Regions from separate parts of the Homo sapiens genome. Here regions 1, 3 and 4 are each linked to region 2. Evidence: fine-mapped expression QTL. A gene starts in region 2. Each other region holds a variant in brackets. All regions are shown on one strand. Distances are from middle to middle.

What was found. PIP is the estimated chance that this variant, and not a neighbour inherited with it, causes the effect.
Region 1: its variant is fine-mapped to the expression of DOK3 in whole blood (INTERVAL, PIP 0.93).
Region 3: its variant is fine-mapped to the expression of DOK3 in whole blood (INTERVAL, PIP above 0.99).
Region 4: its variant is fine-mapped to the expression of DOK3 in whole blood (TOPMed, PIP above 0.99).

The regions. Positions count from the first base shown.
Region 1 is chr5:178,076,414-178,081,607 of GRCh38, reverse strand. LOC124901147 (a long non-coding RNA gene) reads left to right here and starts at 3,338. Exons shown (of 2, transcript XR_007059076.1): 1 at 3,338-3,601. The variant AAAG/G (reference allele first, on the strand shown) is at 2,576.
Region 2 is chr5:177,507,101-177,512,266 of GRCh38, reverse strand. DOK3 (docking protein 3) reads left to right here and starts at 2,441. Exons shown (of 6, transcript NM_001308236.3): 1 at 2,441-2,509; 2 at 2,610-2,792; 3 at 3,725-4,030. The coding sequence starts at 2,727. DDX41 (DEAD-box helicase 41) reads left to right here. Exons shown (of 17, transcript NM_016222.4): 16 at 61-171; 17 at 340-690. The coding sequence ends at 476. RefSeq lists enhancers at 2,036-2,185, 4,006-4,055, 4,076-4,185 and a silencer at 2,316-2,455.
Region 3 is chr5:177,675,763-177,680,956 of GRCh38, reverse strand. All of the region lies in intron 1 of LOC107986489 (a long non-coding RNA gene), which reads right to left. Among named protein-coding and RNA genes, the nearest start is that of B4GALT7, 78 kb to the right of the region's middle. The variant T/C (reference allele first, on the strand shown) is at 3,175.
Region 4 is chr5:177,603,228-177,608,227 of GRCh38, reverse strand. It overlaps B4GALT7 (beta-1,4-galactosyltransferase 7), which reads right to left. Exons shown (of 6, transcript NM_007255.3): 2 at 3,687-4,049; 3 at 701-926. Among named protein-coding and RNA genes, the nearest start is that of B4GALT7, 5.6 kb to the right of the region's middle. RefSeq lists an enhancer at 1,003-1,606. The variant G/T (reference allele first, on the strand shown) is at 2,235.

The DNA.
Region 1 (5,194 bases), 570 kb before region 2:
CAACCTCCGACACCCTGGTTCAAGCAATTCTCCTGCCTCAGTCTCCGGAGTAGCTGGGACTACAGGCATGTGCCACCACACCCAGCTACTTTTCGTATGTTTAGTGGAGACGGGGTTTCACCATGTTGACCAGGATGGTCTCGATCTCCTGACCTCGTGATCTGACCACCTCAGCCTCCCAAAGTGCCGGGATTACAGGCGTGAGCCACCGCGCCCTGCCAAGACTTTTGTTGACTCCAGCATAATTGGAAAACCAGTTGAGTTTTTAAAGCACAGAGGTTACATAATAAGTCTGTATTTTGCTAGAATGTAAAACCCATCAGGGCAGGGATTTTGGTCTGTTTTATTTCCAGAACACCTGGTAATAACTGAATAAACAATTGTGTAATGTATGAGTGAGCGAATGAGTGAATGGGCTGCAGGAAGGTAGATCATGCTGGCCACAGTGCAGAGATTGACTTAAGTGGGCAGAGTCTGGGAAGGGAGGTCAGGAGGCTGGGATACCAGGAGAGAATGAAAAGGGCCAGTTGGTGCAGAGAGCAGCCGGGGACAGACTGGAGGGGACAAGTGGAGAGGTTTAGAGGTGACTTTACAGTGTACTTCATACTTCAAAAGTCTGGCACAGACTAGCCATTTGTGGACATTCTAGATCTGATCAAAAGCAGAACCACCTGGCCCTTGACTCCAGCAACACCATGGCTGGCCTGGAATTTCCTCCCCGGCAACGGTCGTTCTCACAGCATTTCTTCCCAGTTTACTTAGAGCTTTCGCAGACATTGCCTCATCAGATCCTTATCACAGCCCTGAGGATGGGGACTCATTAGCTCCATTTTACAGACTCAAAAACAGAGGCCAAGAAAGGTTATGTGACTTCCCTGGGGTAACACATGGGAAACATGGAATTCAGATCCAGGTCCACCAGTCTCTGCCTCCAGGGTCCTTTCTGCTTCCTCACTCAATTGGAGAGATGTGATTAGCAAATGTGAAAGAGAGCACCAGGCAGCGTGTGGATTCAGCATGAAATGGGATATTAAGAGTGATATTAATAATAATGCATGGCTCTGATGTTCATCAAGCACTGCTGTGTGCCAGCTTCTACTCCAAGCACTTGACCCGAGTCCCCTCATTCATTCCTCAGACACTCTTTGAGTTTGGTCTGTCATTCTCCCCATTTTACACGTAGTACTGGCCAAGCACGTGAGGGACACCACTGTGGGCTTAGCCACCAGGGAAGGCCTCAGAGAGGACGTAAGATGCGGGCAGGGGAGGAAGAAGGCACCTTGAGGCAGGCTTGGCTTGAGCGAAAGTGTGGAGGAGTGGGTGAGAAAGGAGGGGAGAAGCCAATGGGTGCATGAGACAAGGCCCTGGCCTGCGTGCTCTCCAGGAGGGGCCAGGCCTGGCATTGAGGTCTGGCCACAGTAAGTCCCTAGGGCAGGGGCTGACAACAGGGTGATGAGGGTGCCCTGGGCTTCGGTGAGGAAGAGGGGTGGGAGAGGGAGACAGCTGGCTGGTCAGGGCACTGCGGGTTGGTTTGGAAGTCCTGTGCTCAATCTGTCCTCCCACCCCAGCCTCCCAAGTAGCTGTGACCACAGGCAACGCGACCACACCCAGCAAATTTTATTTATTTATCTTTTTGAGACAGGGTCTCACTCTGGTTGCCCAGGCAGGTGTGCAGTGGTGTGATCTCTGCTCACTGCAGCCTCAACCTCCCTGGCTTAGGTGATTCTCCCACCTCAGCCTCCCAAGTAGCTGGGACTACAGACAAGTGCCACCACACCCGGCTAATTTTTGTATTTTTAATAGAGATGGGGTTTTGCCATGTTGCCCAGGCTGGTCTCAAGCTCCTGGACTCAAGCAATCCGCCTGCCTTGGCCTCCCAAAGTGTTGGGATGACAGGCATGAGCCACTGTCCCGGCCAGCACCCAGCAAATTTTATGTAGCACATTTTAAGATGCCAGTAAACCAGAGGTTGCACACTGGTGCCCATAGGTTTGTTTTGTTTTGTTTTGTTTTGTTGTTTGTTTTTGAGATGGAGTCTTGCTCTGTCGCCCAGGCTGGAGTGCAGTGACACAATTTCGGCTCACTGCAAGCTCCGCCTCCCGGGTTCATCCATTCTCCTGCCTCAGCCTCCCGAGTAGCTGGGACTACAGGAACCCACCATCATGCCTGGCTAATTTTTTTGTATTTTGAGTAGAGACGGGGTTTCACCGTGTTAGCCAGGATGGTCTCGATCTCCTGACCTCGTGATCTGCCCACCTCGGCCTCCCAAAGTGCTGGGATGGTGCCCATAGGTTTTTGTTTGCTTCACAGTGTTGATTCATATAGTGTGTTGTGTTTGAAAAATTAATTGAGACCATCCTGGCTAACATGGTGAAACCCCGTCTCTACTAAAAATACAAAAAATTAGGTGGGCATGGTGGCACGTGCCTGTAGTCCCAGCTACGTGGGAGGCTGAGGCAGGAGAATCGCTTGAACCTGGGAGGTGGAGGTTGCAGTGAGCCGAGATCGCACCACTGCACTCCAGCCTGGGTGACAGAGTGAGACTCTGTCTCAAAAAAAAGAAAAAAAAAAAAAA[AAAG/G]AAAAACTAATAACCAACTCAAAAAATCAACATTTCAAATCCAAACCCAAATTATACTGATTCCTATTCGAAAACGAGAGGATCTGGGGATGCAGGGCCTCACTTCTGCATGGCAGCAATTGGCTGAAACACCTCTTGGCTGCAGTCCCCACCACTCCGTATTGCTACGCTCCACCCGTCTCACTCACCCATGCCGCTTGCTTGGCCCCCTTAGGCATTGAGTTTGCAACACCCAGTTTAGATGAACTGACGCATGATTGGAGAAGGGACTAGACTGTCTAGTGATTTGAAACTAGTCATATGAGGACCAGCTGGAGCAATGGGGAATATTTACCCGCTGGGGGCTTGATCACGGCTTTCTCATTCAAAGGGCTAAGACAGAGAAGAGGTCAGATCGGTTCTATACCACCCCCGCAAAAAACTAGAACCAGTGGACGTGCGTGCAGGGAGCGAGGAGAGGAGGCAACAGGGAGGCAGATTTACTCTCAAACTGAGGCAGACTTTTGAACATCATAACCGTTTCAAGATGCAACAGTCATGTCAGGGAGTGGCGAGCTCCCTCGCACAGAGGTGGGGGCCGTGTTTAGGCTGAGCCTGGGCAGCAGCTTCACCACAAATGTTTACAGAAAATCCAAGTGTTACGTGGGCAGCTGAACTGGATGCCCTCTGCGGTTTCTCCCAGCCCTCTAGGGCCGGGCTCTGTGCCCACAAATGGGATGCCAGGGTGAAGGAGAAGGAAGAGCTAAAAATGACTCCTCCACTGCTGGCCTGGAAGCCTGGAAGATGCTGCTGCTGGTGTAAGCGAAGAACTTAGGATGAAATTGATTGGTGGGAATGGCAGGAGAAGATTTTTTTGTGATACAGTGTCAGAAAAGCAAGGAGTTTGGGTCAGACCAGTTACGTCTTTGAAGCTTTCCACGTGTCTGTGTCTTCCTTGGAGCACCTCCCAGTGTTGTCAGGAGGATTTAGAGAAAACAGCCTGCCCAGTGCTTTTGCTTGACTAGCAGAGACAGCTGGATAAAGGTGAGTGCCCCACCCCCACTCCAGCCTGAGAGACCCTAGGGTTCTGGAACTGTGAAGTGCCACGCCTGAGTTCTGCTCCTGCCCTGGTGGCCGAAGTCTGACATCCACTTTCTGTCTGCTGGAGGGAAAAGCATGGTGGATGACCTCTAGAGGCCCTGCCAGCTCTGGGCCACTTCAGTCCTGACAGGAACCTGGGTGTCCAAGCTCTGTGTCCAAGAGGGCCAGGCTGGAGGCCGGAGCAGTGGAGTTGGGAGGCCTGGAGGCAGCTCCTTCAAATGCGCGTCTGCCATGGGAAAGGGAGATGCTCGGAGCTCACTTTTTGATATGGTTTTGACTTTCGAATCATGAACATTATCTTACATACTCAAAAAGTGCAGTTAAACCAAAAAAGGAAAAAACAACAACCTGAAATAGAATACAAATAGAAAAGAAGCTGGGAGCGGTGACTCACACCTGGAGTCCCAGCATTTTGGGAGGCTGAGGCAGGCAGATCACTTGAGGCCGGGAGTTCAAAACCAGCCTGGCCATCATGGTGAAACCTCATCTCTATTAAAAATACAAAAATTAGCCAGGCATGGTGGCACACATCTGTAATCCTAGCTACTAGGGAGACTGAGGGACAAGAATCGATCCAACCTGGGAGGCGGAGGTTGCAGTGAGCCAAGATTGTGCCACTGCACTCCAGCCTGGGTGACAGAGCAAGACCCTGTCTCAAAAAAAAAAAAAAAAAAAAAAAGAAAAGAAAATGATGCTAGGTATGGTGACTCATGCCTGTAATCTCAGCAAGGCCAAAGCAGGAAGATTGCTTGAGGCCAGCAATTCAAGACCAGACTGGGCAACAAAGCAAGACCCCCATCTCTACCAAAAAATGAAAATAAAAAGTTAGCCAGGTGTAGTGGCATACACATGTAGTCCCAGCTACTCGGGAGGCTGAGGTGGGAGAATTGCCTGAGCCTGGGAGGTCAAGGCTGCAATGAGCTGAAATCGCACCACTGCACTCCAGCCTGGGTGAAAGAGCGAGATCTTGTCTAATCTGGAACTCCCGGGCTCAAGTGATCCTCCCACCTCAGCCTCCCAATCTGAAACTCCTGGGCTCAAGTGATCCTCTGACCTCAGCCTCCCAACGTGGTGGGATTACAGTCATGAGCCACCACGCCCAGCCTCTTTATTTTGACAAGGGCTCACTCTGTTGCCCAGGCTGGAGTGCAGTGGCACAATCTTGACTCACTGCAGCCTTGACTTCCCGGGCTCAAGTGATCCTTGTGCCTCAGCCTTCAGAGTAGCTGGGACTAACCCAGGTGTGCACCACCATGCCTGGCTAATTTTTAAAAATTTTTGTAGAGACAGGGTCTTGCTTTTTTGTCCAGGCTGGTCTTGAACTCCTGGGCTCAAGTGAACCGCCCATCTCGGCCTCCCAAAGTGCTGGGATTACAGGCATGAGCCGCTGCACCCAGCATGGTGGTGTATTTCTGAAATAAATGATTGTGTGTGTTTTGCAGGCTACATATATTTTTGTGATTTTGAAGAACAGTGTTATTTGTCTGAGCTCGCTGGGATGGCTCATAGCAAAGCAAGCATTTTAACAAGTAGATA
Region 2 (5,166 bases):
ACCCAGGTTCTGGCCACAGAGCCCAGGATGGGCCCTGATGCTTCCCCACTCCTCCCCCAGATGAGTCAGTGCTGATGGACCTCAAAGCGCTGCTGCTAGAAGCCAAGCAGAAGGTGCCGCCCGTGCTGCAGGTGCTGCATTGCGGGGATGAGTCCATGCTGGACATTGGAGGTGACTGCAGAGCGGGATCCCCGAGTCCCCAGCCGGCAGGTGGCAAGGAGGGGTGCTGGAAGTCAGAAACGTGAAACCGGTGGACCGAGGGTGCCTAACGGGGGGCCCGAAGTCCAGGGCATGGATCCTGGTCCTTGACTTGGCTGACCCCTGTCCCCATTCCCCCAGGAGAGCGCGGCTGTGCCTTCTGCGGGGGCCTGGGTCATCGGATCACTGACTGCCCCAAACTCGAGGCTATGCAGACCAAGCAGGTCAGCAACATCGGTCGCAAGGACTACCTGGCCCACAGCTCCATGGACTTCTGAGCCGACAGTCTTCCCTTCTCTCCAAGAGGCCTCAGTCCCCAAGACTGCCACCAGTCTACACATACAGCAGCCCCCTGGACAGAATCAGCATTTCAGCTCAGCTGGCCTGGGATGGGCCAGGCTGGTCCTGGCTGCCTGTTCCCTGTGCTCTTCAGAATTACTGTTTTTGTTTCCTTTTACCCCAGCTGCCATTAAAGCCCAAACCTCTAGCCCAGCCCTGGCCCTGCCTCTGTGTTTCACCTCATCCGCCCCCTGGTTCCTGGACAGACGTCACCTCTGACCTCTGGAGCCCCTCTGAGGCAAGGCCCCAGCATCTCCCACTAGCACTGCCAACACCTGGCCTGCTGGTACTTGGCTGTGGAAGGAGCCACCGAGCTGGTGCCCGCCTCTGGGGACTCTGGGTCTCTCCACTGGGTTGTCTGAATTTATGACTCAAGGAGGGACCACATTGGCGGGCCAAGGAGAAGTGCTTGGATTCTCTGGTCTCCCTGGCCAGCTGTCATAGCTCTCAGGCCCACTCTTCCTGTCAGGGCTGTGATGTTTCAGGGACTTCTCCTGAAGCCCCTTGGGAGGCTGCTTCTTGCCTCAGGACCCCCACCCACTGCCTGCCTGTGCCAGCCACCTGGAGGGAGCCCTCCATTCCGTTGACTGAGGAGGCAGCAGATGTCATAGAACTGCCATTTAGGCCACAAGCTCTCCCTAAGCCTGCTCTGTGCCCAGCTCTGCTGAGCTGTGAGGACCTAGATGGGCCAGGGAGATGGCTGCCTGGGAAGCCGTCAGGCGAGGGGAGAGAAAGACGCACACGCAGAAACGTGGACGGCAGTCACAAGACCGCTAGCAGATGAGGCAGGATCTCAGCATCTGGTGAGAGGTAGGCAGGGACGGCACAGGCGGCCACACTTCCTCTGAGCCAGGCACTTTGCATGTATGGCCACATGCTCATTCCAGTGAGACAGCGGTTGCTCAAGCCATATTTGTCACTTGATATGTGGCATTGGGCAAGTTACTTAATTTTTCTGAGCACCGATTTCCTCACTGTTGAAATGGCGATGAGAACGCAAAGGATGTGGCGTCTGAGGTGGACGGAGCTTAGGGCTGCTTGGGCCACAGTGGGCACAGAGCTGGGTGCCAGGAGGCCTTCAGGACATATTTCCTGGCCAAGTGCATTCCCAAATGGCATTCCTTATCCTCTTCCATGTTCTCTCCCAGAGGTGGTGCTGAATGACCTGAGGCTGTTCCAGAATAAAGGTATACACACAGCCCCGCTATTGGCATCTTGCTAGGCAAGCCAACAAAAGGCGCCCCCAGCAGGAAGCAAAGCTTTAAATGAACATGTGACCTCTCCGGGGCCCCCTGGGACCTGCCACCCACACTCACGTGGTTGGGGCCATTCAGGGCTGTGGGTCCCATGTGGACTGGATGCCCAGCGTGAGTGTATACCGTGAGGGCCTTTGAGCTCTCGGACAGCGTGGAGTGGTCAAGGGAGGCCTCCAGGAGGAAGAGGTGGCCAACCGCCCCAGGCAGCACAGTGGTGAGGGGGCCCTGGAGGGGCTGGCCTGGGGGAGATGCAGGCCAGAACACACAGGTCCCTGAGTGTTGGGCTGAGGAGCCTGGGCTGCACCCCAGGAAGGGGAGAGACAGGTTGGTCTTGGGTTGTGGAGAGTGCTGCATGGAGGCCCAGTGGGGCAGTGGCCCCTGGGGGGATGCCAAAGGCTGGTGATGTTCAGTGGCTCGTGAGGTGGAGAGGAGCAGGTGAACACGAGAGAGATTTCAGGGAGAAAGAAAAGCAGCAAGATGGGGTGAGGCGCTCAAACCAGGACGCCGAGTGGGAAAGCCAGGAGTTGGCTAGAGAAGGGTCCTGGGTGGAGGCAGGGCCAGGGAGTGTCAGGCCCAGGGTGCGCAGCTGCCCGGGGCGGGACGGGGGAGGGGCGGGAACTCATGACTCGGGGAGCCAGACTGCGATCAGACGCGCGTGCCCAGCTGAACCAGGTGCGTGAGAAGGCTGCCTTCAGGTGGCCGGGGGCTCCCTCCAGGTAGGTGTGGGCACCTTGGGCAGCCAGAACCCCAGGGAGGAAATACATGCTGCCCCCAGCCCCTGAGCTGAAGACAGGCTCCCCTCCCCCCGGCCTGCAGCTGTCTCTAGACGGAGGGACGGGAAGTGGCCAGAAGGGGAAGTGTGAGGAGTTCCCGTCCAGCCTGTCATCAGTCTCCCCAGGTCTTGAAGCGGCGGCCCTGCTCCTGGCCGTGACCATGGACCCTCTGGAGACCCCTATCAAGGATGGCATCCTCTACCAGCAGCATGTCAAGTTTGGCAAGGTGGGGACCCCTGGCTGCCAGGCAGCTGCCAAGGACCAACAGTGGGTGGAGAATGCAGCCTCTGCCCCTGCCTCGGACAGCCCAGGCAGACCTGGGAGACTTGGGAAGGGAGTCAGGGTGGAGGATCCCACCCAGGTATGGGGAGTGGAATGGAGTGCGGGTGTCAGCCTGAGACGGCAGGGGCTGAGCAGGCTCTGCCAGACCCTGCCTCCGGGAGAGATGGGAAATACAGGAGTGGGAGAGGGTCGAAGGCTCAAACCTCCCAGCAGGGAAGAGCTTCACAGCCTCTGACCCATGAAATAGTGCCACCGAGGGCCCTAAATAGGGTGAGGGGCTGAGCTGGAGGAGGCCTCAAGGGTGGAGCCCCTCCCTGCAGCGGCACTGTCCTGGGAGCAAGGAGGCAGGGGGTCACCTCTCCTCGGCAGCAGCCCCACACCCCCGCAGCTCAGCTGCAGCTGCTGCCCAGGCAGATAAACCGTCAGTTTCCTTTGCTCGAAGCTATTTGCATGTTTCCTTCCTTAACAGCTTGAGGCAGAGGCCTCCCTCCCACCCCAGCTCTTGGCCTGTGGCCCAAGTGCCCCTTTTTGGGGGTGAGAGGGAACCAATATAATGGCAGTGTCTGGTGGTCTGCCCGGCCACTGGATGCTTTACAAACATGACCCAGTAGCAGTCCCAGCTCGAGTTCTCATGGCCTTTTGAGAGACGACATTGATGCTTGTGGAGGTCACAGTTAGGAAAGAGCGGGCTGGGATTTGAACCCAGGGCTGACCAATCCCAAGCATAGCCAAGGCCTCCTTACCTGGCTCCCTGAGAAACTGGGGAGCAGAGGCCCGCTCCTGGCTGGGAGCGTTTGCCGAGCAGCTTGTGCTGAGCCAAGTGGCACGGACAATCTGCCACCCAAGGGTCTTCACCCTCCCGCTCCCCTCCCGCAGAAGTGCTGGCGGAAGGTGTGGGCTCTGCTGTATGCAGGAGGCCCATCAGGCGTGGCACGGCTGGAGAGCTGGGAGGTCCGGGATGGTGGCCTGGGAGCAGCGGGTGACAGGTCGGCAGGGCCTGGCCGGCGAGGGGAGCGACGGGTCATCCGCCTGGCTGACTGTGTGTCCGTGCTGCCGGCTGACGGCGAGAGCTGCCCCCGGGACACCGGTGCCTTCCTGCTCACCACCACCGAGCGAAGCCATCTACTGGCTGCTCAGCACCGCCAGGCCTGGATGGGCCCCATCTGCCAGCTGGCCTTCCCGGTGAGTGCGGCGAGCAGGGGGGCGATTGGGCTGGGGCACCTGCCCCCGACTTGTCCACCTCCACGCTCACATCCCATCACCCAGCAAGCTCCACCGAGCACCTACAAGCCTGGGAAAAGTAAATCTATAATGACTCTCAGAGGGCCGTGCGTGCCATGGAGAAAATGGACCGCCAGGGGAGCAGGAGGAAGTGAGGGAGCGACGGGCAGGGTGGCCAGGGAAGGCCTCTCAGAGGAGGGCCCTGAATGACAGGAACCCACTGGGCAAAGGTCTGAGGACAGGGGCAGCCTGGGGAGTTGTGAACAGAGGGAGTCCCGTGGGCAGAGGCCCCGAGGCCGGACAGTGTGGGGTGTTTAAGGGCAGAAAGAAGGCGACGTGGCTGGAAGGAAAGGAGTGCAGGAGGAAGCCAACTCACAGAGCTTAGGAGAGCGGCTGAAATGCCCTAGGCCATGTGTGTGGTTTTGTTCTGAGTGAGAGGCGAAGGCTTTGGAGGGTTTAAGCCGGACATGTTTGTAAAGCCCCAAAAGGTCTGTGATGGGTCAAAAGGAAGTGAGCCTGGGGGTTCTTCAAAGAGGTAAACAGAGTTACCATGTGGCCCACAGGTCCACTCCTAGGTGTGTGCCCAAGAGAACTTGAACAGGTGTTCAAACAAAACATGTACATGTGAGGCAGGAGGATCGCATGAGCCCCAGAGGTCGAGGCTGCAGTGAGCTGTAATCGTGCCACTTCACTCCAGCCCGGGAGACAGAGCAAGACCCTATCTTAAAAAAAAACCCACATGGACATGAACGTCCATAGCAGCACTACTCACAGCCACCAGAAGGTGGAAACAGCCTACATGGCCATCAGCTGACAAATGGATAAGCAAAACGTGGTCCGTCCGCAAGATGGAATACTACTCAGCCATAAAAACAAACAAACGCCTGGCACAGTAGCTCTTGCCTGTAATCTTAGCACTTTGGGAGGCTGAGGTAGGAGGATTGCTTGAGCCTAGGAATTCAAGATCAGCCTGGGCAACATAGTGAGACCCTGTCTCAAAAAAAAAAAAGAAAAGAAGAAAGAAAGAAATGTACAGACAAGGTAACTCCATTGGGATAGAAATCAGATGAGTGTTGGCAGGAGCTGGAGGAAGGGAG
Region 3 (5,194 bases), 170 kb before region 2:
AGTGGTTAAGAAATATAGTTTATGATCTCACTTTAGTAAAAGCAAATGACAAATTCACAATCTCTAACATATATTTTATATATTTCTATGTGGTGTACATGTGTCTGTATATCTTTGGAGAGGCTTACATGATTATGGAGAAATATGTACAGGCTTACATACCTGGGCAAACAACATTTGCCTGGTGATGGTGGTCATGCTGGTGGTCAACAAAGAATGTATAAGAAGAGCATAAAGGGAGATAACAAACAGATTTGCAAAATTGGAAAATATTCACAGTATGCTAAGTGAAATGTATAAATCCAAAGTCTAACCACAATATTGTTAAAATATGTAAAACTGAATATGTAATGGTAACTAGGACAAAGGACAACTTAATGTGAGTAGTAGATTTTTGTCTTGGATGTCTTTTTTCACAAGAAAGTAACATTGGAACAAAGAAAAAATAGCATTTTATATATCATTATTAATTAAATGCATATTAGAACAAAACATGAGAGCACACCAACTTTTGTCTATTGATTTTGTCAATAACATGAATGCAGAAAATGTTCAGATAATTATTCTGTACAAAATGGTGTTAATAACTTCAGTTCTTTGCTACCTCAAGGTAGACCTCATACTTGGTCAAAACCACCTCCAAACAATCCTGGAATGCCTGGTTTTATGCAGTTACCCAATAACTCCTGTAAAACTAAGGTGGACATTGTGGTCATTAATGCAATTTGGCTTGAATTGGTGTCCTAATCTAATTATTACTCAAATCAGAAATGTAAAACAATGTCATTGTTTCCTACTACACTTGCTGCTAATGAACAAGTTGTACAAAGACAGGATTTGCTCAACTCATCCTCCCTCAAATCATTTCCTACATTCTTCTAACTTAAAGGATTGCTTTTGCCCAGGTTCTTTTGAGCTCTGCTTGCCCCGGAGTCCACATGCCCCATGAGTAAACTGGCTCAATTCTCCCACTACCTCCCTCCACTTAGTTAAAATTCATGAACTACCATAGTGCCTTAAAACATTATGCACCTGGCCAGGCGCGGTGGCTAACGCCTGTAATCCCAGCACTTTGGGAGGCCAAGGCAGGCGGATCACGAGGTCAGGAGATCGAGACCATCCTGGCTAACACGGTAAAACCCTGTCTCTGCTAAAAATACAAAAAATTAGCCAGGCGTGGTGGCGAGCACCTGCAGTCCCAGCTACTTGGGAGGCTGAGACAGGAGAATGGCGTGAACCGGGGAGGCGGAGCTTGCAGTGAGCCGAGATGGTGCCACTGCACTCCAGCCTGGGGGACAGAGCAAGATCCGTCTCAAAAAAAAAAGACAAAAACATTATGCACCAATGCAGGCAACTATAAACAGAAATATAAAGCCAATGTTGGAGTTGTACGGTCATAAAATGATTCAGAATGTGCTTATAATTTTTAATACTATTGCTCACCTGAAAATTACAAAATTACTTTTTCTTTTTTTTTTTTTAACCCTAGAATTTGCAGACTCCCAGGAGGTCTGGGCACTCAAATAGAGAAAGAGAGTTAGGATTTTACAAAGCTTATTGATGAAAGCAGGTAGGATGATATCATCAATTAGCCTGCTAACTAAACTCTAATTTAGAGCTGACTGGCCTTGCAATTGGGAGTAACTGTTTAGTTCCTTTCTTTCCTACTTCTTCACTTGGACCATTCCCCTATCACACAATGCTCTTTGGAACATTTGGACAAATAATTCAACTTTAAATCAGCAATTCCACTTCTAGAAATTTAACTTAAACAGATAGATATCTGGTCCAAAGTACAAAGATGTATGTGCAAGAATGTTTAAAGTAGCAAGATAATACTGTAAACATCCTAAATGTTCATTATTTGGTGTCTTGTTGAATATGCAAGCAATGTAATACTTTGTAAATGTTAGCTATTCATATAGATTTCACTGTTACTGAAAAAGATGAACAGCATAGGAGAAAAAAGTCAACGTATATGAACACAGTTTAAAGAAAAAGCTACAAATAGCCAATGAGCACTTTAAAAGTGTCATAACTTCACTCATAATGAAGTAAAGGCAATCAGGACAAGATACCAACCTTAAATTATTGGATTGGCAACAACTAAAAAGTCTGATAACCAGTGCTTGAAGAATTTGGGGAAATAAGCACTCCCAAGTGCTTTTGTTGATACGTTATTTGGTGCAACCTTTCTGGATGACAATTTGGGAATTTCTATCAATATGTAAAACACACATCTTCTAACCCAGTCCCCCATGCTTAAGAATTTCCCGGGTCAGGTGCAGTGGCTTACGCCTGTAATCCCAGCACTTCGGGAGGCCAAGGCAGGCAGATCACGAGGTCAGGAGATCGAGACCATCCTGGCTAACAGGATGAAAGCCTGTCTCTACTAAAAATACCAAAAAAAATTAGCCGGGCGTGGTGGCGGGCGCCTGTAATCCCAGCTACTCGGGAGGCTGAGGCAGGAGAATGGTGTGAGCTCGGGAGGCAGAGCTTGCAATGAGCCAAGATGGTGCCACTGCACTCCAGCCTGGGCGACAGAATGAGACTCCGTCTCAAAAAAAAAAAAAAGAATTTCCCTGCAGATATGCTGGCAAGACTTCTTAGAAGCTCAAAGATGTTGTTGTAACATAATTGGTAATAGTAATAACAAAAATACACAAAAACCCTAGAAACAACCAAAATATCCATGATAGAAAACCAATTAAATAAATTATGGCACAGCCTAACAAATGACTTTTTAATGTAAGCTGTTAAAAAGTGACAGATATGTTTACCCTGCAGTTAGGAAATAATGCCCATGATAAATTACAAAAGGCAAAGTAAATAACTGTACAGTGTGATTTTTATGGTGTGTTAGAACAGATAAGTATGTGTAGTAAGTAAGTATGTTTTGAAGGATTTACAAGAAACTAATAAAGGTATTTAGTGTTAGGAGGAAGAACTAGGAAAGAGAGGGTGGCTTTCAACTTTCACTTTTCATTTTGTAAGTTTTGGTAGCAAGAATTTACTGAACTCACAAGATGTTTCTTTTAGTTTTACAAACTGTTCAATGAGGGATACCAAGAATGGGAGAACGTGGTATATTTTTTTGCTTGCTTCTTTGTGGTTTTCTATATAAAAGCAAATACGCTATTTTAAAATATGAGCCAATAGACAATATGGATACTA[T/C]AGATCCATGTTCACTGACACAGAAAACCATAAGGACATATTAATTTAAGAAAACCAACTGTGATGCAATATGCATAGTCTGATCCCATTTATGTAAAAATTTTGCACATGTGAGTATCGGCCATTTAGAGATATCTGGAAAGATGTTATCAAAATATGATGGAGTTACACATTCTGCTTCGTAACCTTTCTCAATTGCTTTAACTTTCTCAAATGAGGATTCTTCAAACATAGGGAATGAAACAAAATTTTTACAAAGGCCTTGATATCACAGCAAATTTGAAGATGGGAAGGAAGCAGGGAGAAAGTATAAGAAAATGATTTAAATAAAGTTATGTAAACTGAGAGGCCGCCTGCTGAAGCAATCCAGTGGAAAAGCTAAGAGTGCCCTGAAACTGGAAGATTAGACCTGGAATCCCACAGAAGGGACAGAATGTTCCCTAGAGCAGGGAGAAACTTGAGCTAGCTGGCTTTAGCATAAACAAAAGCGGGTCTGCAGGCACTGACCCTGCCATGTAATGAAAAATAGAAAAAAGAAAAAATATTTTAAAGATGAATAACCACCAAAAAAAAAAAAATCCCCATTAATAAGGCAGGAAGCTTTGTATTTAGAATGTTTTTACCACAAATGATGGTTTCAAATCTCAATAGCAGGCTGCGTGCGGTGGCTCACACCTGTAATCCCAGCACTTTGGGAGGCCAAGGCAGGCGGATCACGAGGTCAGGAGTTCAAGACCAGACTGGTCAACACAGTGAAACCCCGTCTCTACTGAAAAAAAAAAATACAAAAATTAGCCGGGCATGGTGGCGTGCATGCCCAGCTACTCCCAGCTACTCGGGAGGCTGAGGCAGGAGAATCGCTTGAACCCAGGAGGCGGAGGTTGTGGTGAGCCAAGATCGTGCCACTGCACTGCAGCCTGGGTGATAGAGTGAGACTTCGTCTCAAAAATAAACAACTCTATACCAGAGCAGATATGTTATTCGATAAAGCTAAAAATGTATTTAATTTTAGTAAGTACACATGAATTCAGGTAAATACACAGAAGCAGCTCTAGAGGAATAAACATAACAGCACTGAAAAGGGGGAATTGCGAATCTGGATGGGGGAGGTGGCAAAAGGGGCCTTTAGCCTTGTCTGTAATGCTTTTAAATTTTATAAAAGAAAACCATGCACATAGTGTGTTCTATTTTGGTAAAATAGACGTAACACAAAATTTACCATTATAACCATTTTAAATATACAATTTGGCGGCATTAGTTCATTCACAAAGTTGTGCAACCATCACCACCATCCATTTCCAGAACTCTTTGTCATCCCAAGCTGAAACTCAATACACATTAAACAATAACTCCCCATTCTCCCCTTCCCCAACCCCTGAAAAACCATTATTCCATTATCTGTCTCTGTGAATTTGCCTATTCTAGGTACTTCATAAACATGGAATTGTATATTTGTCCTTTTGTATCTGGCTTATTTCACTTAGCATAATATTCTCAAGGTTCATCCATGTGACATGTTATCAGAATTTAATTCCTTTTCATGGCTGAATATATTATTCTATTATATGTATATACCACTTTTTTTTAATCCATTCATCTGCTGAGGAAGACCTGTTTCTACCTTTTGGCTATTAGAAATAATGCTGCTGTGAAGATTTGCAGACGAGTACCTGTTTGAGTCCCGTTTTCAGTTTTTCTGGGCAAATATCTAGGAGTAGAATTGTTGAATCATACGGTAATTCTACATCTAACTTTTTGAGAAACTGCCAAACTATTTTTCACAGCTGCTTCTCCATTTTACATTCCTACCAGCAACGCACAGTGGTTCCAGTTTCTCCATATCCTTCCCAAATTTGTTTTCTGTTTTTTAAAAAAATAGCCATCCTAAATGGGTATAAAGTAGGATCTCAATGTGGTTTTGATTTGCATCTTCACACATTTTCTCATGTATGAATTTTTCATTAAAAATTATTTTAAAAGAAACCATTTTTTCTTCATTAACCAACTAGTGATACCTCCT
Region 4 (5,000 bases), 96 kb before region 2:
TCCCCTTTCTCCTGGTGGCCCTGCCCTCATCTCTTCCTGTGTGTGTGAGAGGGGTAGCAGGGTTCCATGACAGACACCCATTCTTGCACCTGGCTCAGGGGCTTCATTTACATAAAGCTGGCCCCTGCCATGGCCTGGAGAGGAGGACACCCAGGCCTGAGCCACAAGTGCTTCTTCCTGCCTGCCCGTCCACCAGCCAGTGACTGGCTGAGGGGTGGGCTCAGCACTCAAGCCGGCCAATCAAGAGCCAGTGCAGCTCACTGCGGGACTCCTGCCTGAGCTACAAGGGAAGGGCCCCATCTCCCACCAGCCCGGGGCCTAGATGGATACAGACTGCAGTAACAACCACCACCTTGCCAATAAACCCAGTGCAGGGAAGGAGAGCTGGGAGATGCACAGAGAAACAGGGTCCTGGTGACACTGTCTGAGAGGTGGGCAAGGTACACCTGAACCGCCCCTACACTCTTCAGTGTTAAGGGCCACTAACCACCCAGGTTTCTGAAGCCCCCGTGCAAGCAGTTCTGCTGCTGCGGCTGACTGGCTCGCCTGCTCTTCGCACTCTGGCTGCTCCCAAGTTCTCCTGCTAGGCCAGGGCAGGGCTCCATCTGCTGGGCCCCAGAGGCACTGCCCCATCCTTCCCACCACCCGCAGCCTGGAGGGAGCTCCCGGCTCTGAGCAGAGCAGGCTGTCCGGGCCTCACCAGCCGGTAGTGCTGCTTGGAGAGCAGCAGGATGCCGCCGACATAGGTCTTGTAGTGGTAGAGAGGGTGGAGCTCCGGGGAGGCCACGTGGAAGGGCCCAGCCTCAGGAAAGCCATAGTCCAGCTCCTCGTTGAGAGGGAGCAGGTCAACGTCGTGCATGGCAATGTAGTCCGTGCTGTTGCTGCTCTCCAGGAAGCCCACGTTGATGAGCGCTGCCCGGTTGAACCTGTGCAGGGTGGGCAAGGCTGGGCAGGGGCAGCACACGGGCTCACTGCCTGGGGCTCAGCACCCACCCGGGGGTCCCCATGGTGCCTATGCTGCCCTCTGGCCCAGCACTGACTTCACTCAGCCTGTGGGGCAGTCCCTCCACTCATCGCATATTTACTAAGCACCCACTATGTGCCAGAAACCATTCAAAGCACGGGAGGTACAGCAGTGAAAAACCAGGCCCTGTTCTCAAGGAACTGAGATTCCAATAGAAGGAAACAGAAACAAGCAAACACAAAGCGTGGCCAGCAGTGGTTCGTGCTGGGGGGAAAAGCAAAGCAGGCAAGGAGGGCGATCTTGCTGGGGGTGGAGGTGGCTCTTGTCCTCGGTGGGGCCGTCAGGGAGGGCCAGGGGAACTGAGTGACAGAAACCTGAAGGCCTGAAGAGATGACCCACAGGGCAGTGGGTGCCTAGGGCTCTGCATAGGAGAGATGGCACTGCCACGGCAGGAGGCAGGAGCAGACCAACGGGCAGCTGGGCAGGGCGAGGGCAGAGGTGGGGATGTTGGGGGTGACACAGTGACTGCACAAGGCCCAAGGGCCACTGAAGGACGGGGCTTTGACTCGGGTAAGATGGGTGCCATGGAGGCTCTGAGCAGGGTAGAGGCGTGCTGTGACTTATGCCTGGACAGGACCGCCCTAGCTGTTGTGCTGGAAGAGACTGTCAGAGCAGGGGTGAAAGCAGGGAGACCAGCTGGGAGACTATGGCAATGATTTAGGTGAGAGACCAAAAGATGAAGGTGGCCTAGCTCAGGAGGTGGCAGTGGCAACAGCGAGAAGCGGGCAGATTCTAGATGGATTTTGCTGACGAATAGGACGCAGTGTATGACAGAGAAGGAGCAGCTGAGGATGACCCCCGGGCTTTTGGGCTTGAGCAATGAGAGCAAAGAGCTTCCATTCCCATGGAGAAGAGGACAGAGCTACAGGTTTGGGGCAGGGCAGGCCACCAGCAATTCAGCTGTGATCATGGAAGCTTGCAGTAGCTCTGAGGCCACCACGTGGAGGGACTGTGTAGATGGCTGGGCTGTTGAGCCTGGAGTTTAGGAGAGAACTCCAGGAAACAGCCTCAGGAATCATCAGAGACGTGGTTTAATGCTGGAGATGACATGAGATGCCCCAAGGAACACCTGGAGTTAAAAAAGGGGGGCTGCCGAAGCACCGAGTCCAGAGAAGCCCCGATGGTGAGAGCTCGGGGAGATGAGCAGAACCCACAGACACAGAGGCCCAGCCAGTGCAGAGGGAGGACCAGAGGGTGCTGCCCCAAGCAG[G/T]GGCATTTTACGAAAGAAGATGCTGCTGGCAGGTCCACAGGATGAGGGCCCAGCATGGCCTCTGGACCAACAGAGTGGAGGAGGTGGCTGGTGACCTCAGTGAGAGCTGCTCTGTGCCATGGTGGGTGCAGGAGTCTGAGCGGAAGGGGTTCAAGAGAGACGAGGGGAGAGAAAGGGAAGGAGGTCTGCCAGAAAGCAGAGAAGGGTGACAGCCTCGAGGGATGTGGGATCCAGGGAGTCTTTTTCCTTTGAGAGAGGAGCCACTTCAGGGTGTGTGTGCTCATGGGTATGCTCCAGGAGAGGAACGCTGATCGAGAGGGAGAGGAAGGGCCCAACTGTGGGGTGGGGGGAAATACTGAAGGATGGGGATGGTGGGAGTCAGCCCGGACAGAAGCTGGAACAGCCTTGAGTCCCTGTGCACAGAGGCTGGCAGGTGAGTTGTGGAGGGAACTGGGGAAAGTTCTCTTCCATTTCATTCTGTTTTCTGAAATTGGAAGCAAAGTCGTCAGCTATGAGTGAGGACGAGGGATGAATGAGGAGAACAGATAGTTTTAAAGGCTGCAGTGGACAGACCAGAGGAAAGTGAGGCTCCCAGCAGGGCAGAGGGCCTTCCTGGCAGGGGCATCATCGGCATGGGGACAGCAGCATGGCCGCCTCACGTGTTGTCTTTCCTCTCCATACCCTCCAGTGCCCAGGCACAGGTGTGGAGCAGAGAGCTGGAGTAAATCAGGCTGGGATTACGCCAGCAGCAAGGGACCAGAGGCTTGAGGGAGTATGCCAGGGAGGGTTTTAATGATGGACCTTGGACTCCAGGTTGGGTAAGGAGGAAGTAAAGACAAGAAGGGTGGCAGGGAAAAGGGGGGGGTCTGGGGATCTGGATCAAGGGGACTTGAAAAGGTGGGAAGATCAGGCTGGTGGGGCTGAGAATCCATCTTCCAGTGGGAGTTACCTAGAGGGAAAGGAGGTGGGGGCTGGTGGGTGAGATCTCAGGCTGTGGTCATGGAAGGGAGCACTTTTTGGTAAGGGCAGGGATTTTAGGATAACGCCAGACTGTGGGCAACTTTAAAGCCGTGGCCTTGACCCTCCCTTTCCCTAATCCCCGGGCCAATCCCCAGGGAGTCCTGTCTGGGCTTCCTCCACAGCACCTCTCTCTACCCACCCCCCACCAGGCCATCAAGCCACTGTCACCGCAGACCACAGCAGTGACCACCTAACTGCTCTCCCTGCTTCTCCTCTTGCCCTGGTATAATCCATTCCACATACGGCAGCCACAGTGAGCTTTTCAAAATGGAAATTAGATCAGGGCCCTCTCCAAAGGTTCCTGTCACACCCAGTGAGAGGGGTCTGCCACCTCCCGCCCTCCTGCCCCTGCCCCAGGTGGCCTCTCACAGGGCCTGAGAAGCCTGAGCCCGGGCAGGGGTGCCGAGGGGAGAGGGTGGGGGCGGGCGCTACCTGAAGTGGTCCACCTGGTTGAGCACGTAGATGTGGTGCCGGATCTTCTTCCTGCTCAGGAAGCGGCGCATGTGGGGCACGAAGACCAGGAGCTCCTCGAAGCGTTCGCGGAAGGGCACCAGCACTGCCAGGCGGTGGGGGCCCCAGGATGCGTCTTCTTCCCAGTGCTCAGGGGGCGGCTCTGGGGGGCAGGCACGGGGAGGGCCCGAGGTCTCCTGCCCTTGTCCCCTGACTGCCCGGGCCACGTCCCCAGAGCAGCTGAGCTGCAGCCAGAGTAGGGAGAAGAAGCCCAGCGAGAGGCAGGCCACGAACAGGTGGAAGACGGAACACTTCCGAGGGAGGCCGCCGGAGAGCAACCCGGACCTGGAGCAAGCGCGGGACAGGGTCAGGAGGGCGGGGCAGGGCTGGCCCTGTGACAGACCCGTTCTCTGGCCTCCCCACGAGGAGGCTGCACATAACTCGTCTACCCCAAGCACCTGGGAATTAGTACAGAAGCAACTTTAATGTTTCTGCTCATGCCACTACCATGCATCCGAATCCTGCTTGCCTCTCTAGACCCAACCCATGCCACCCGCTCTCGGGAAGCCCTCTGAACCACTCCCAGTTCACAGAGCTGCCCCGGCTCCTCAATGCTCTCTTACTTTCTGTGACTGAGTCCTGGTCAGAGCTGCTCAGGGCAAGGATGAGGAGGCTCCTGTCACTTGCAGGTGCTCCTCCCCACGATAGTGGCTCAATGTCCTGAGCCAATGACAGGAGTCCCCACCTTAGAGATGCAACCCACTGCTTTCCAAACCCGCTCCCCTACAGATCCACCCCAGCAGAAACCGTGGCTCCATCCTGCTTCCAAGAATGACCAGAAAGGCCACCCAGACACGGGTGTGTGCTGGCATTAGTCCAGGTAAAATGACCAATGTTTACTCTGGGAAGATCAGACGTGCCCCCCGAAGCAATGCAAGGCCCAAACTGTCAGTGGCGGTTCACTGAACGAGCCTCAAACCTTTAGTCCAAGAGGCAGCTCATGATAAAAGATGGGAGATGGAGAGGGAAAGAAAGATGAGGGCTGGGTACAGCACAGGCACTGATTTCAGAAACTGGAAAAACAGCTGAACATCACAGACACTGGGGTGATGCCAGGAGACAGCCTTTTGGTTAGCAAATACAAAGAAACAGAATTCACCAGATTCCTTTGCCGCTCCTCTGGAAGTTCCTGAGTATGCTGAGACAGGAGCTGAGGAATCCATGAAGGGAGAAGCTTCCTCTGTACTCCCCCTACCTTCTCCCCAAAGTAATCTGCAAAGGAATCCACTTCACAAT